3 separate regions of the Homo sapiens genome follow, and all the other regions are reported to be linked to region 1. The links are microRNA targets in miRTarBase. Many come from high-throughput screens and were not tested one by one. Region 1 holds a microRNA gene; each other region holds the end of a gene's coding sequence.
The links. The annotated mature microRNA hsa-miR-6799-5p reads GGGGAGGUGUGCAGGGCUGG and lies in region 1 at 4,029-4,048, opposite strand. An mRNA with a match to its seed (bases 2 to 7 or 8) in the 3' UTR can be bound and repressed. Matches are read on the target gene's strand: a 7mer-m8 pairs with bases 2 to 8, a 7mer-A1 pairs with bases 2 to 7 and ends in A, and an 8mer does both.

Region 2: the mRNA of ADA2 is a reported target of hsa-miR-6799-5p. Seed matches in the 3' UTR shown: 7mer-m8 at 1,785-1,791 and 7mer-A1 at 1,952-1,958.
Region 3: the mRNA of AQP6 is a reported target of hsa-miR-6799-5p. Seed matches in the 3' UTR shown: 7mer-A1 at 452-458, 7mer-A1 at 883-889, 7mer-A1 at 1,019-1,025 and 7mer-A1 at 1,224-1,230.

The regions. Positions count from the first base shown.
Region 1 is chr19:49,788,077-49,795,918 of GRCh38, reverse strand. It overlaps MIR6799 (microRNA 6799), which reads right to left and starts at 4,053; the gene lies at 3,985-4,053. AP2A1 (adaptor related protein complex 2 subunit alpha 1) reads right to left here. Exons shown (of 23, transcript NM_130787.3): 5 at 3,855-3,984; 6 at 2,827-2,928; 7 at 181-289.
Region 2 is chr22:17,177,789-17,181,846 of GRCh38, reverse strand. ADA2 (adenosine deaminase 2) reads left to right here. Exons shown (of 10, transcript NM_001282225.2): 9 at 1-27; 10 at 271-3,057. The coding sequence ends at 364. Among named protein-coding and RNA genes, the nearest start is that of HDHD5-AS1, 20 kb to the right of the region's middle.
Region 3 is chr12:49,975,472-49,979,529 of GRCh38, forward strand. It overlaps AQP6 (aquaporin 6), which reads left to right. Exons shown (of 4, transcript NM_001652.4): 4 at 1-1,668. The coding sequence ends at 200. LOC105369764 (a long non-coding RNA gene) reads right to left here and starts at 34. Exons shown (of 3, transcript XR_001749143.2): 1 at 1-34.

The DNA.
Region 1 (7,842 bases):
GCCTCGGGCTGCCTGCTTGCCTCCCCGAGTGCAGCCACGTAAGGGGACAGAGGAACCGCCCCAGCTTCAGAGAAATCCTGACCCAGACCCTCCAGTCCCACCTGGTGCGCCGTGGAGCAGGAGGCCCCCAGATGCCAGCAGCAGGCCACCCCGGGTTGGGGAGTGCACGGCGTTCATTACCTGGAGGCGGGTAGCACTGCAGCAGCCGCAGGAGCTTCACCGAGAGCCAGGGTGCTGGGACGAAGTAGTAGGTGTAGTCCTGGAGGTCGGTGGAGGCAGAGGAGACGATCTGGCGGGGAAGAGCAAGAAATAAGTTGGGGGCTGGGGTGGGAGGGGCACGTGGGTCCACATGCCAGGGTGGAGCAAATGGTGCCTTCCAAGGGCAGTGCTGTCAGTGTTAATGGTTTTGTTAGTGGGTTTTTTTTGTAGAGACAGGGTCTCACTATGTTGCCCAGGCTGGTCTCGAACTCATGGCCTCAAGCAATTCTCCCACCTCAGTCCCGCAATGTCCTGGGGTTACAGGCATGAGCCACCATGCCCGACCAATGCAATGGTTTTATGAAGCAGGAATCTGAGGCTCTGGGAAGGGAGCGAGGAAGCGTCAGGCACACTGAATGGGGGCAAAACTAGGACTAAGCCCGGCTGGTTGATCTTTCCAAGTAATGCTGGTGTGTGGTGGGCAGGAAAGGTCTCTGCTGGTTCCCTTCTGTGTGACAGTTTCCCAGGGCCCCCTCCTCACTCGGCTCTGAGCCTCCCATGCCCCAGGCTTCCTCCGTCAGAGCACACAGCGCACCGGCTCCTGGAGGCTGTTTCCTGTAGTCCCCCTACAAGGCTTGAAGCCACTCAGGGGCAGGGATTGGGTCTGACCCTTTTTTGGGTCCCTAGGCCTAATACAAGGTCAGATAGGAAGAGGTTCGGGGAAGAGGCAGGGAATTAGTGAAAGATTGAAAGATCATGGCCAGGTGCAGTGGCTCACGCCTGTAATCCCAGCACTTTGGGAGGCCAAGGTGGGTGGATCACCTGAGATCAGGAGTTCAAGACAAGCCTGACCAACATGGTGAAACCCCATCTCTACTAAAAATACAAAAATTAGCTGGGCGTGGTGGCACATGCCTGTGATCCATGCTACTTGGGAGGCTGAGGCAGGAGAATTGCTTGAACCCGGGAGGCAGAGGTTGCAGTGAGCCAAGATCACGCCATTGCACTCCAGCCTGGGCAATAAGAGCGAAACTCCATCTCAAAAAAAAAGAAAGATCATGTGACTTTTTTTCCTCATTGCAAACTCCTATTCAACCTTGAAAAGCCCTTCTCCAGGAAGCTCTGTCCCACCTCCGTGCTGGTCTGTGTTCCTACCTCACTGTCATCCTGGCACACTGCAGTACTCAGATGTGTGATGAATGAATGAAACAATGACTGAGGCTGAGTGCAGTGGCTCACACCTGTAATCCCAGCACTTTCGGAGGCTGAGGCGGGAGGATCACTTGAAGCCAGGAGTTTGAGACCAGTGTGGGCGACAAAGCAAGACCGATCTCTACAAAAAATACAAAAATTAGCCAGGCACCTGCAGTCCCAGCTACTCGGGAGGCTGAGGCGAGAGATCGCTTGAGCCTAGGAGCCAGAGGCTGCAGTGAACCATGGCTGCACTACTGCACTCCAGCCTGGGCGACAGCAAGACCCTGTCTCAAAAAAAAAAAAAACCTGAGAAAGAAACAATGAGTGGGCCAGGCGCAGTGGCTCACGCCGGTAATCCCAGCACTTTAGGAGGCCGAGGCGGGTGGATCACGAGGTCAGGAGATCGAGATCATCCTGGCTAACACGGTGAAACCCTGTCTCTACTAAAAATACAAAAAATTAGCCGGGCATAGTGGCAGGCGCCTGTAGTCCCAGCTACTCGGGAGGCTAAGGCTGGAGAATGGCGTGAACCTGGGAGCTTGCAGTGAGCCGAGATCGCGCCACTGCACTCCAGCCTGGGGACAGAACGAGACTCCGTCTCAAAAAAAAAAAAAAAAAAAAAAAAAAAGAAACAATGAGTGGATGCACGAGCTGGTGTGTTCTTCTCTTTGCCTGCGAATCCAGGCCTCTTCCTGACTGCCCAGGAGATGCGCATGTGTATTCTAAGTCTCAATTCTGGGATCGCCGCCCCCAGGAAGCCTTCGTGGACTCACAGGCTGTGTTAAGTGCCTCCTATGGGTGACCTATCCTACCTCCATTATAGCACGAGTCACCCCTTTTCTGACAATCTGTGACTGAGTCACCTCCCTGCCAGAAGGACAGGGAGCTCCTTAAGAGCAGAGCTTGGTTCTGACTCATCTGTGTCCCTGGTGTCACCCGACATGGAGCCTGGCATGCACAAGGCCTCAGGGGATGTTCCTGGGCAGGACAGGAGCAAAGGTGGGAGAGGGACGCCAGGCAGGAGTGAGAGGCTGCACAGGAAAGAGAGAGGCGGGAGGCAAAGCCAGAAGAGGGAAAGTGGGAGACAGAGAGAGAAGTGGGAGAGGGAGGAGGTCATGAGGGCGGCTGGCTCCCGGGGTGCTCGGCCCGCGAGGCCCTGTTCTGAGCACTCTATCCACAGCGCTCTGTGCCTCCAGGTGGGCACCGGTATTATCCCCACTGAACACAGGGGGCAGCTGAGGCCAGGGAGGTGAAGCCACTTGTCCAGGGCCACCCAGCCAGGAAGAGGCCGAGCCAGGATGAATCCAGCTCAGAGCCTGAGTTTGTAAACCTTGGGCTGGGCTGCCTCTCAGGGAGAGTGGGGGCCTGAGGGGTGTCAGAGGGCATAGGGATGCCAGGGCCACCTCCAGCAGCCAATATCTAGGCCACACCCACCCGGCTCAGGCGCGACACAGCCAGAGAGACGCACGTCTTGAAGTCATCTGGGTTCTTCTTGCAGAGACAGGTGATGAGGCTGACGGCGGCCGTGACCACACCCTGCAGGGGCAGAGGAGAGACAAGTCAGGCCCCTGGGGGAGGTGGTACCTGAGAGCAGAGGCTCAGGAGCGGGACAGGGTCGGGATGTGTGTGCAGTCGGGAAGATGGGGTTTAGGGGTGTGCACATGTGTCACTGTGCGTGCTTTAGGGGTGGGGTGAGGAGGCCACGGGGCCTCGGGCGCCATGGCCAGCACTGACCTGGGTGTGTGGGGTGTCCCTGGCAGGACCCCAGGCAGCTGGGTAAGGAGCAGTGAAGGGGCGAGACTCTAGAGGGTTGGGACTGTGGGGGTGGGACAGTCAAGGTTTCTGCGCTGGTGCGCAGGTGATGGGCGCTGTTGGGGGAATCTCCAGGTATTAGAAACAGAGTGGGATTTTCTAAGGGACTGGGTGGTTGGTGAGGGGTGTGGGGGTCACTGGACAGGATCCCTGGCCAGCCAGGGGAGTGTCAGAGATGGGGATGGGAGGGTTTCTGGACACTTGGGCAGGTAATGAGTACCGGGGACACTGGATCATGGTTTCTGGTGTCTGGTGAACGTCAGCGCCGAGGGGGAAGCTCCAGGAATCCAGGGGGATCAGGGCTGAGGTGGGAGCCCCAGGCATCCAGGGGGCGTGAGGGCTGAGGTGGGAGCCCTGGGTATCCGGGGGCGTGAGGGCTGAGGTGGGAGCCCTGGGTATCCGGGGGCGTGAGGGCTGAGGTGGGAGCCCTGGGCATCCAGGGGGCGTGAGGGCTGAGGTGGGAGCCCTGGGTATCCGGGGGCGTGAGGGCTGAGGTGGGAGCCCCGGGCATCCAGGGGGTGCGTGGGCTGAGGTGGGAGCCCTGGGTATCCGGGGGTGTGAGGGCTGAGGTGGGAGCCCCGGGCATCCAGGGGGGTCAGGGCTGAGGTGGGAGCCCTGGGTATCCGGGGGTGTGAGGGCTGGGGGCTCACCATGTGCTGGTCATTGAGCAGGTGTACCACACGCGCCGTCCACTCGCCCATGGGCACCAGGTCAGGCGAGGCCTTGTACAGTCGAAGGAGGCACAGGGCCGCACTCTGCTTGACACTGTCCATGCTGTCCCTGTGGGGACACCATGCAGGGCAGGGGAAGCAGAGTCAGTGACCCCAGCCCTGCACACCTCCCCTCCTCTCCTGTTCCTCCCAGGAAGGGTGTGCGAGGCCAGCGAGAGGGACAGACAGCCAGGCGGCCGCAGGATCCAGTCTGGCGCTGACCTCACGGCCCACCAGGACTCAGTGTCTTCATCTGCAAAATGATTGCATCTCAGTAACCTCACAGGGCTCAGGAACATGTCAAGCCTGGCTCTGCACCTTCATTCATTCACCAAGCACCTACTGGGTGCCCATGGGGTACCAGGCACTGCTGTTCACTCCATGGATAGAGTGGTGAATAAAGTGGTCCAAACACTTGTCCTCACAGGGCTTACATTTCAGACAGCACCACGAAAACACATACATCAAATACTGTCAGGGCTGGGCATGGTGGCTCACGCCTATAATCCCAGCACTTTGGGAGGTCGAGGTGGGAGGATCACTTGAGGCCATGAATTCAAGACCAGCCTGGGCGACAGTGAGACCCAGTCTCTTCAAAAATACAAAAATTAGCTGGGTGTGGTGGCGCAGGCTTGTAATCCCAGCTACTCGGGAGGGTGAGGTGGGAGGATTGCTCGAGACTGGGAGGTCGAGGCGGCAGTGCACCATGACTGTGCCACTGCACTCCCTCTAGCTTGGGCAACAGAGTTAGAGCTGTCTCTAAATAAATAAAAAAATTTAAAAATAAACAAAACAGAGTAACTTAAGGAGGAAAGACTGAAAATCCTCTGCAACAGAACATCCCAGGCAGAGGGAACAGCCTGTGCCAAGGCCATCAGGAAGGCGGAGCCCGTGTGTAGGAGGAGCAGCAAGGAGGCCTGCAGGCTGCGGCCTGAGCCATGGGGCAGGAGGGCTGCAGATAGGACAGGGAGGGAACAGAGAGCCAGACCCTGCAGGGCCTTGTTGGCTGAAGTGAGGACTTGGCTTTTTACCGATTGGGAGATGAAAGCCGCTGTGGGTGGTGAGCAGAGAATCAGCGTGATGTTAACACGACAGCAGGAACAGCTGCCCCCGGACCCCTTCGGCCTGTCCAGCACTCCCACAGGTCTCTGGGTGGATTCACACGTTTATCTTCTCTCCACAACAAACTGAGAAAATGGGTGTATTTTTGATCTGGCTTAGGTTTTTAAAGGGTCCCTCTGCCTGTTGTGAGGGAACAGACTTTGCAAGGCTCTTTTGAATCCAAGGGAATATATTCACAGGTTCTGGGGGTTAGGGTGGCTCACGCCTGTAATCCCAGCACTTTAGGAGGCTGAGGTGGGAGAATCACTTGAGCCCAAGAGTTGGAGACCAGCCTGGGCAACATGGTGAGACCCCCATCTCTACTAGAAATATGAGAATTAGCCAAGCGTGGTGGCGCATGCCTGTAGACCCACCTACTTGGCAGGCTGAGGTGGGAGGATCGCTTTAGCCTGGGAGGTGAAGGCTGCAGCCTGGGTGGCAGAGCAAGACCCTGTCTCCAAACAAAAAAAAGGGTGGGGGTACTTTGCAGATATGATAAAGTTAAGGATCATGAGATGGAGAGAGGATCCTGGGTGATCCAGGTGGACCCAATGTCATCACAGGGTCCTTATAAGGGAAAGATACAGTTCAGAGTCAGAGATGATGTGAGGATGGAACAGAGGTCAGGCAGGAGAGAAGATGCCACACTGCTGCCTTTGGGGATGGGGGAAGGGGCCACGAGCCAAGGAAAGCAGGTGGCCTCTAGGAGCTGGAGAAGGCAAGGACGCGGCCTCTCCTCTAGGGCCCCCGGAAGGGACGAGCCCTGCCCACGCCTTGATTTTAGCCCCGTGAGATGGATGTTGGACTTCCGACATCCAGAACCGGTGTTTGACACCGCTGTGCTGGTGGTAATTCATCACAGCAGTCACAGGAAACCAGGGTCAGCACTTGCCTGGCACAGAACCTGGCAGCCAGCGGGCAGCCCATCTCAGAGGGCTGACTCCAGGCCCCAACCATAACCCAGCTCCTAGCACAGCAAAGAGCATGGAGCATGATGTTGTTCTAGAAGAGGATCCCAGGGGAGCACCTTCTGGGGTCAGACACGCCTGCATGAGGTTGTGACTGTGGGGCACAGATGGGGGTAAGCCACTGACCCTCTCTGATGGGCTGTTTCCCCTTCAGGAAAATGAGGAGCCTTGTCGGCTTTGGGGAGAAAGAAATAAGATGGTGGGCCAGGCATGGTGGCTTACACCTGTAATCCCAACACTTTGGGAGGCTGAGGCAGGCGGATCACTTGAGGCCAGGTGTTTGAGACCGGCCTGGCCAGGCCAACGTGGTAAAACCCTGTCTCTACAAAAAAAAAAAAAAAAAAAGGCCAGGCGCAGTGGCTCACACCTATAATCCCAGCACTTTGGGATGCTGAGGCAGGTGGATCACCTGAGGTCAGGAGTTTGAGACCAGCCTGGCCAACATGGTGAAACCCCATCTCTACTAAAAATACAAAAATTAGCTGGGCATGGTGGCACGTGCCTGAAATCCTAGCTACTCGGGAGGCTGGGGCAGGAGAATCGCTTGAACCTGGGAGGCAGAGGTTGCAGTGAGCTGAGATCTCACCATTGCACTTCAACCTGGGAGACAGAGTGAGACTCCGTCTCAAAAAAAAACAGAAATGAGATTGTGTGGTGCATGGCCATAGCCTTGAGTAAGAGGAGGTGCTGGGAGCTGTCAAGACTGGCCCAGCCATGGCCTATCAGTAAAGGGTTTCCCAGAAAGCACCCAACAGACAGCAAAAGACACAGGGGAGAAGTCCTCAGAGGGGAGACCTGCACGAGTCAAAGGCCTGTGGCAGCATGTCTCACTGGATGTGCAGCCACCCAGCAGGTGGCTCCTGCCGTCATCCAGGCAGATACTCGCCCGACTGACGCCTGTTGCTACGGCCTCCTAAAGTGCTGGGAACCCTCGTGTGCTGCAGCTGGAGGCGGACACAGGGACAGGCCCTCTGGAGAGGCTCTGGGCTTCCTCTGTCTAGAAAGGCCACTGCTGTGTGTGCAGCAGACCAAGACCAGCAGTGCTGCCCCCAGACGCTCACCCTACAGAAACGTTCACTGCCCAGTGGTCATCAAGTTAGAACCAGAAACCAGCAAGAAGCCTGGCCACAGACGATGCTCCATTTGTGACGGCACTTTCCCACCTCCGTCACAGCGCACATCTCCCGAGCCCTGACTCCAGGCCACTTTCCCATCTCCGTCACGGCGCGCATCTCCCGAGCCCTGACTCTGGGCCACCTTCCCATCTCTGTCATGGCGCTCATCTCCCGAGCCACAGTGCATCTCCCGAGCCCTGACTCTGGGCCACTTTCCCATCGCTGCCACGGCGCACATCTCCTGAGCCACAGCGCATCTCCCGAGCCCTGACTCTGGGCCACTTTCCCATCGCTGCCACGGCACACATCTCCTGAGCCACAGCGCATCTCCCGAGTCCTGACTCTGGGCCAAACTCTGCTCTAAGTGTTCCCGCACAGCTCGCTCGCTCCCCACCACAGCCCTCTAAGGACGCGGATTCTATCATCTCCATTTACAGATAAGGATACCACACAAAGGAATAAGAGCTATTTATCAACTTGGTTAAGTGGAATAAGGGCTATGGCGCTACTTAGGAAAATGTTAAACTACACAATATCAAGCTGCATATTCAAGTATAAAAAATAAAACCACAAGTCAGGCGCGGTGGCTCACGCCTGTAATCTCAGCACTTTGGGAAGCTGAGGCCACGGAGGATCACTTGAGCTCAGGAGTTCAAGACTAGCCTGGGTAATATAGTGAGACCCTGTCTCTATAAAAAATTCAAATATTAGCCAGGCCTGGTGGCTTGTGCCTGTAGTCCCGGC
Region 2 (4,058 bases), not on the chromosome of region 1:
CAAACAGCTGGCCATGAACTCTATCAAGTGAGTGTCCTGTGTCCTCCCAGGTCCCCCGCCTCCTTCCAGCCCGCAGCTTGTGTTTGCCTCTCTGGAGGCTTGAGGCAGATGCCTCGATGGTTCCTGTGGGTTCCTTCTCATCATGGCTGTTTAGTCCTTGCTGCTGGCCTGGGGAGAGTGCTCTGCAAGGCTCTAATGTCCTCTCAGGCTCCCTGCCCCGTTCCCCAACCCCTGCCCTGAGGCTGACCTGGGCTCCTCCTCTTCCTGCAGGTACAGTACCCTGTTGGAGAGTGAGAAAAATACTTTCATGGAAATCTGGAAGAAGAGATGGGATAAGTTCATAGCAGATGTGGCTACAAAGTGAGGAGAAGCTAGCCAGCCCTCTACAAGCTGTCTTCTTGCACACGCTGTCACTTCCTCTCACTCGTTCTTGAATCAGCTCCATGTGCCCATGAAATCAATGGCCTCTGTATGGAGCGACCCTGTGAGAAGCACTTGGCTGGCTGAGCAAATTCATCCTCTGGAAATATTCTCTCTCAGCCACAGTGACATTGACCCTCTTGGTTTTCTCCTGTCTCTGGCCATTTCTTCCAGTTTCCCTATTTCAGAGTCTTCTCCTCTCTCTGATCTCTGTGCTGTTTCCTCAGGACTCAGTCCTGGGCTCTCTTCTATTCTGGTCTCTTTATTTTTTTATTTTTGTATTTTTTCGAGATGGAGTTTTGCTCTTGTTGCCCAGGCTGGAGTACAATGGTGCGATCTCAGCTCAGTGCAACCTCCGCCACCCGGGTTCAGGCAATTCTCTTGCATCAGCCTCGCGAGTAGTTGGAATTATAGGCATGTGCCACCACACCCAGCTGATTTTTGCATTTTTAGTAGAGACAGGTTTTCACCATGTTGGCGAGGCTGGTATCCAACTCTTGACCTCAGGTGATCCACTCGCCCCTTGGCTCCCAAAGTGCTGGAATTACAGGCATTAGCCACCATGCCTGGCCTATTCTGGTCTCTTTAACTCTCTCCTCTTTATTTCTCTTCTCTCTCTGTACACTTTTCCTGGGTGGTCTCATCCATTCCTTTGCTTTTTCATACCATTTATTTGTTAATGATTCCCACATTTATTTATGCACTTGGAGAGCTCACAGGAATCTCAGAAACTGATGAGGTACAATTCTGAACCCTCAGTCTCTTCCCTTTAAACCTTTCTTTTTCTCTACTTTAATTTTTCTAAAGAGTGTCTTGCTATGTTGCCCAGGCTGGTCTCCAACTCAAGTGATCCTCCTGCCGCAGTCTCCCGAAGTGCTGGGATTACTGACATGAGCCACCACACTCAGCCCTTTAAACCTTTCCCTGGCCTTTCCCATAGCTGGTGAAGGACACCTCCATCCATTCCACGCAGTTGCTCAAAGCAGAAATTTTCAGTGCAAGTCTTGATGCTGCGCCGTCCCCCACTCCCTACATCAGAACGCATCCCTCATCTGGACTCCAGCGGTGGCTTCTTGATGCTGCGCGGTCCCCCACTCCCTACATCAGAATGCATCCCGCATCCAGACTCCAGCGGTGGTGCTCTACCTGCACGCTGTTGCCAAGTCCAAGCTACCATACTCCTGCCTGAGCTATGACAACAGCCTCCTCACTGATCTCCCCTTTCTTCCCTTTGCCTCCTCCAGCTCATTTTTCACAGTGTAGAATGACATTTTGTTTGTTTGTTTTGTTTTGTTTGAGATGGAGTCTCGCTCTGTTGCCCAGGGTGGAGTGCAGCGGTGCGATCTCGGCTCACTGCAACCTCCACCTCCCGGGTTCAAGCGGATTCTCGTGCCTCAGCCTCCTGAGTAGCTGGGATTACAGGCATGCACCACCATGCCCGGATAATTTTTGTATTTTTAGTAGAGATGGGGTTTCACTATGTTGGCCAGGCTGGTCTCGAACACCTGACCTCGTGGTCCACCCGCCTCGGCCTCCCAAAGCACTGGGATTACAGGCGTGAGCCACCCGGCCTGGCCTAGAATGACTTTTAAAAGATCAAATTAAATCAGGTCACTCCTTTGCTTACAACGCAGTGCGTTTAGAGGTACACCCCATGTCTCCACAGGGCATACAGCATCCGATTTAATCTGGATCCATTCCGGCGCCTTCCTCTCCCAGTCACCCAGAGGGCCCCAACCCCGGCGGCCCTTTCTTCCTCAAATGTCCTCGGCTCTATACCGTGCCTGGGTCTTTTCTCTTTCTCTCTGCCTGGAAGATTCCTTCTTTCCCCTTTTGTCTTGCCCACTCCTGTTTACCCTTCAAGTTTCAAGTTCATGTCACTGTCTCAGAGAGGTTTTCCTGTGCTCGCCCTGTTTCTCTCAGGAAGCCTTGCTCTTTTCCATCATGCCTCTAATCACAGCTTATAATCGGATATTTATTTCTGTGTCTACAGTCTTGCCCTGCCAGACTGTATGCCCCATGTGGGCAGGCGCTCATGATTGTTTCTGATTGTTTCACGCATGCTGCTAACCCAGAGCCTGGGCCCAAAGCTAGTTAGTACTCAATAAACAATGCATTGAATGAGTGGCTGTCACTGTGTCTGTTCAGCCAGCTGCCAAGGCAGAGGGGAGTAGAGCAGAGCCGCCCCAAATAAAAGACCTCATGTGATCAGAGTCCAGCTCCTCACCTGGCCTTGGAAGAAGGATGCAAGAAGCCACCTCTGTCCTCACCCAACTCAAGGATGGCAGGGAATCAAAGAATTCCTCAAAAGCCCCAGGCGAATGTCCTCTCATCCATCTTCCATGACCTGTACCTGAGCTCTCAGACAGCAGCAAGCCCTCTCTCCATTCCTAGTTTATCACCATTTGGTTCCTGGAACTGGGAAAAAACAGCAACCATAAGCTGTGCCTGGATGGAAGAAGACAACCTCTAGGGTCCTGTCTAACTCTGCAGGTGATTCAGTGCCTTACCCAATCCCTGAAGATCTTTTAGGTCCCAACTGCGCAGGGGACCTCCAACACAGGCAGACGCAAACAGCCTCTGGCCTGGACTTGCTGTGATCTCTGATTTGGCAAAATGAACCAGCAATAGTCTTGCCTTTGTGCTTTGTGTCCAGTTCTTCCTTCTTTTTTTTTTTTTTTTTTTTTTTTTGAGACAGAGTGTCTGTTGCCCAGGCTGGAGGGCAGTGGCGCGACCTTGGCTAACTGCAACCTCTGCCTCCCGGGTTCAAGCAATTCTTCTGCCTCAGCCTCTCGAGTAGCTGGGTTTACAGGCACCTGCCATCACGCCTGGCTAATTTTTGTATTTTTAGTAGAGACGGGGTTTCACTGTGTTGGCTAGGCTGGTCTTGAACTCCTGACCTCATGATCTGCCCGCCTCGGCCTCCCAAAGTGCTGGGATTACAGGTGTGAGCTGCCACACCCGGCCTTTTTTTTTTTTTTTTTTTTTTTTGGAGACAGTGTCTCACTATGTTGCTCAGGCTGATCAACTGATCTCAAACTATGGCCTCAAGTTATCCTCCTGCCTCAGCCTCCTGGATACCTGGGATTACAGGCACTAGCCACCACATCCAGTCTTTAAGCTTTTAAATTCAACTTACAAAGCTTGTTAGTTCTTCCTTCTTGACTTTATTCCTCATTGCATAGGCCTAGTCCTATTGAACTAAATGTCCATGGAGCATTTATCTGATCATTTTGAAATAATTTCAAAAAGTTGCAAGAATAGTACAAAAAACTCTTACCAGGCCAGGCACAGGGGGTCACGCCTGTCATCCCAGCACTTTGAGAGGCCGAGGCGAGTGGATTGCTTGAGCCCAGGAGTTTGAGACCAGCTTGGGCAACATGGCCAGACCTCATCTCTACTAAAAATACAAAAATTAGCTGGGCATGGTGGGGTGTGCCTGTGGTCCTAGCTATTCAGAAGGCTGAGGTGGGAGGATTGCTTGAGCCCAGGAAGAGGAGGTTGTAGTGAACTGAGATCACACCACTCCACTCCAGCCTGGCCAATAAAGCGAGACCCTGTCTCAAAAAAACAAACAAAAATAACAACAACAACAACACAAACCTCTAACATTCTCTTTGCCCAGGTTCCCCCAGTTA
Region 3 (4,058 bases), not on the chromosome of region 1:
GGGTGGGGCCCCTGATGGGAGCCCTCCTGGCCTCACTGATCTACAACTTCGTCCTGTTCCCCGACACCAAGACCCTGGCGCAGCGGCTGGCTATCCTCACAGGCACCGTAGAGGTGGGGACAGGGGCAGGGGCAGGGGCGGAGCCCCTGAAGAAGGAATCCCAGCCGGGTTCGGGAGCCGTGGAGATGGAGAGTGTGTGAAACAGCCTACGCCTGGCCGCGCCCTTGGGCTTCCTGCCTTGCAGGACCTGCCTGGAGGTTCTCCCTGGGGGTGGCGGGAGGGGGAGGCTTGACCTTTTGTCCTGACCAGGTGGGCTGGAGGGGACAAGCCCTATCCCTGGCATTACGTTTCTAGGTAGAATCTGGGAGTGAATTTGTCCCATTCCCTCTCTGTAGGGCTTCCCCACCTCTCGGTGGGACAGAGCAGAGGAAGGCAGGGGATTTAGGATCGCCCTCCCATCCTCTCACCCACTGGACCCCGTAGGAGTCCTGACCCCAGATGCCCAAGTCTTGGGGGAGAAAGGAATGGGAGCCCAGACAGCCACTCTGCTTAGACATGGGAGCTATAGGGACCTCAGGGAGCCCCAGCTTCTTACCCACCCAGGAAACCCTTGGTCCAGAGAGGACAGGCTTTCTGGAGGAATCAGGCCCTGGGACAGCCTCTGAGCTCCTGGGGGTGTTTCTCTGACCTTGGGTGTGGTTTTGGGGGCTATATTTCCTCCTTCAGACTGGGGGCTTCCTGAGGACAGAGACTGCTCTACCAATAGATCTTTGTTTGTTTTGAGACAGAATCTTGATCTGTTACCCAGGCTGGAGTGCAGTGGCATGATCTCGGCTCACTGCAACCTCTACCTCCTGGGTTCAAGGGATTCTCCTGCCTCAGCCTCCCAAGTAGCTGGGATTACAGGCGCCTGCCACCACGCCCAGCTAATTTTTTGTATTTTTAGTAGAGATGGGGTTTCATCATATTGGTCAGGGTGGTCTCAAACTCCTGACCTGAGGCGATCTGCCCACCTCGGCCTCCCAAAGTGCTGGGATTACAGGCGTGAGCCACCGTGCCCGGCCTCTCCCAATAGGTCTTTATTCCTCAATCCTCCAAATGCTCTGGAGAGGCCCCCACCCTTGAGAAGAACTGACACAGAGAAGAACATTTTCTCAGGCTCGTAGAGAGGTGGGATAGAGGAAGGGAGGTTTGAGCCAGACAGGCCTTTCCCAGGGAAGCCTCCTCCCAGGTGCTTGCCCCAGCTCCCACCCCACAGCCCACTCTCAGGCAGGAACAATCCTCAGAGGGGAAGTGCCCATCTAGCCATTGACTCATGACCTGGGTCAAAGAAGCCGTCTCCAGGCTCTCTGTCAGCATTACAGGATCCCCAGAAAGCTGTTGAATAAGCCCTAAGGGTGGTAGGAACCCAGGAGGGACCCAGGAAACTAAGATTTGAGATTCAGTGCCTCTGAAAGACTACCAAAATCTAAGTTGGTTTAATAGTTAAAAGCTGCTGTAGATTTATTCTGCCCACAACTTGGGGGTCCTTTCTGGATCTCGGCTTCTCCAGCTGTAAAATGGACACACAATCCTCCTCCAGGGACTGCTGTGAAATCAAGAAATCGGAAAATACTTTCAGAAGTTAAAATGCTAGAAAAACAACCCCAATAAATGATGATTATTGTTGCTGTTACTGTAATTATTGGGTATGAAGACAATTGCTGTTGGTAATGAGAGGGAGGAGGGGAAAAGAGAGAGAGAAAGATGATTGAGAGGGAGGGAAGAGAGACTGGGTTTTCTCTCACATCATTGGATCTACTTAACCAGGGACCCTGTGTGCTCTTCTCCTGGGTCTGCTGACCTTGAGGCTTTGTGGGTGTGAGGGGCTGTGGGAGGGCCCTGGAATGAAGAGGCGAACCAATAAAATCAGTTCTTCTCATCTCTATGACGCCCATCACCATGGTACCCTAAGATGCAGCAGCCAAATTCATATAAAAGATGGGTCCTGGCGGCCAGGCACGGTGGCTCACGCCTGTAATCCCAGCACTTTGGGAGGCTGAGGCGGGCAGATCACGAGGTCAGGAGATCGAGACCATCCTGGCCAACATGGTGAAACCCTGTCCCTACTAAAATATAAAAAATTAGCCGGGCGTGGTGGCGCGTGATTGTAGTCCCAGCTACTTGGGAGGCTGAGGCAGGGGAATCACTTGAACCCGGAAGGTAGAGGTTTCAGTGAGCCAAGATCACGCCACTGCACTCCAGCCTGGTGACAGAGCAAGACTCTGTCTCAAAAAAAAAAACAAAAAAAACAAAACAAAAGATGGGTCCTGGCCTGGTGCAGTGGCTCCCACCTGTAATCCTAACACTTTGGGAGGCCAAAGTGGGAGGATCGCTTGAGGCCAGGAGTTCGAGACCAGCCTGGACAACATGGCAAAACCCTGCCTCTACAAAAAATTAAAAACTTAGCCAGGCATGACGGCTCAAACCTGTAATCACCAACATGTTGGGTGGCCCAAGCAGGAGGATTGCTTGAGGCCAGGAGTTTGAGACCATCCTGGGCAGCATAGTGAAACTTCATCTCTATTATTTAAAATGAAAAATTAATTAAATTAAAATACAAACAAAAGATAGATCCTTTTTAGTGATGTCTCCTGAGGGACTGGGGATGGGGGAAAGGCTGCCCAAGTCTTCCAAGGGCAGTGTGGCAGGCCCAGCCTGTGACCAGTGCAGTAGCTGAATCCCTGGTGCTCATAGCCCCAGTAGCTGTGCTCAGCGTTCTGTAATATCAGCGCAGATACTACTCACATCTCTCCAAGCTGGGCCCCACTCATCCATCTTCACAATCTCTCAGAGTCCAAGGCTGCCTGTGTCCTTTTATGAGCAGGGAGAGCTGGGTGTCTGTATGTATGCATGTATGAGAGCGTATGTGTAAACAGAGGACATGATTGACTTGCTCAAGGTCACCTGGTTCAGGAGCACGAACACTTAAGGTCTCCCCAGCTCCCAGTTGAGAATTTTCCAAAATAGAGCTCCTGGGGGGTTCATACAAGCTGCAGCCCCAGGAAGGAAGGAAACAGGAACTAGAGGATTGAAGGGGATGGGGGCGTGGAGCTCCTATGGTAGGCTCTTAAGCTCCTTGACAAATGATCACTGCTTTTTGTCCCCAGAGCCAAGCACACACTGGGTGCTCAATATAAGTTTGATGAATGAATAAGGCTGGGCAGTTGGGGAGGATGGGAGGCAGTAATAGATCAAGAGGAGAAAATTTCAGGAGTTACAGCTCCAAATAAGCCAGTATGACAGCAGCTGAGAAGCCTATGCTTCCAGGCAGGGGCTGGGGAGAGGGTGCATCGCCAGATATTTGCTGTTCCACCCACAATTTCAGAGCAGGCTTCACAATGTCTGTCCCAGGAACATACAGGCCAAAATATGAGGGGTTGCCTGAAGAGAAAGCTGAGGGGCTATTTTCACTAACAGTTCTTCAAAGCAGTTCTGTCAGGACAGAGCAGGAGGAAATAAGTTTCCTGAGAAGTGGGGAATTAGGTTAGCCTCTGAAGAGCATCCAAGGTTAGACGTGGAAATAAGTAACCAAAGGTTCGCTTCCCCTCCTCTGGAGCCCTTTAATAGGACAGCAGGCCATCTGTTTGGATGAGGGAAGGGCTGGCCTTTGGAGAGCTGAATCTCAGTAGCTCCAGCTGGGGGAAGCAGGCTTCATTGGCATAGCCCCTGGGCCTGGGTGGGGGCAGGGGACATGGGGAGGACAGAGACCCAACCAGGCCAGCCCTTGGTGTGCATTCCCTTCCTCCTGTTTGTCAGGGAAGTTTTTAATTAATGGTGTATAATCTGATCTGACCCTTCTCCCTGCTGAGCACTGCCTTCAATCAGTGGAGCCATCTGCAATTGCAATTCATAATTCTCCCCAAAGGGAGGGGGACTCGGGCCGGGTGCCTTGGTGATTAATACAATTAGCCTTTTATGTTGATGATTGTCTTAGCAGGAGCAGATGATGCTGTGCTGGGAGCCTGGGCGGTCGCGTCCCGATTGGCTGGCAGGAAGCCCCTCTCCGCTTCCCACCC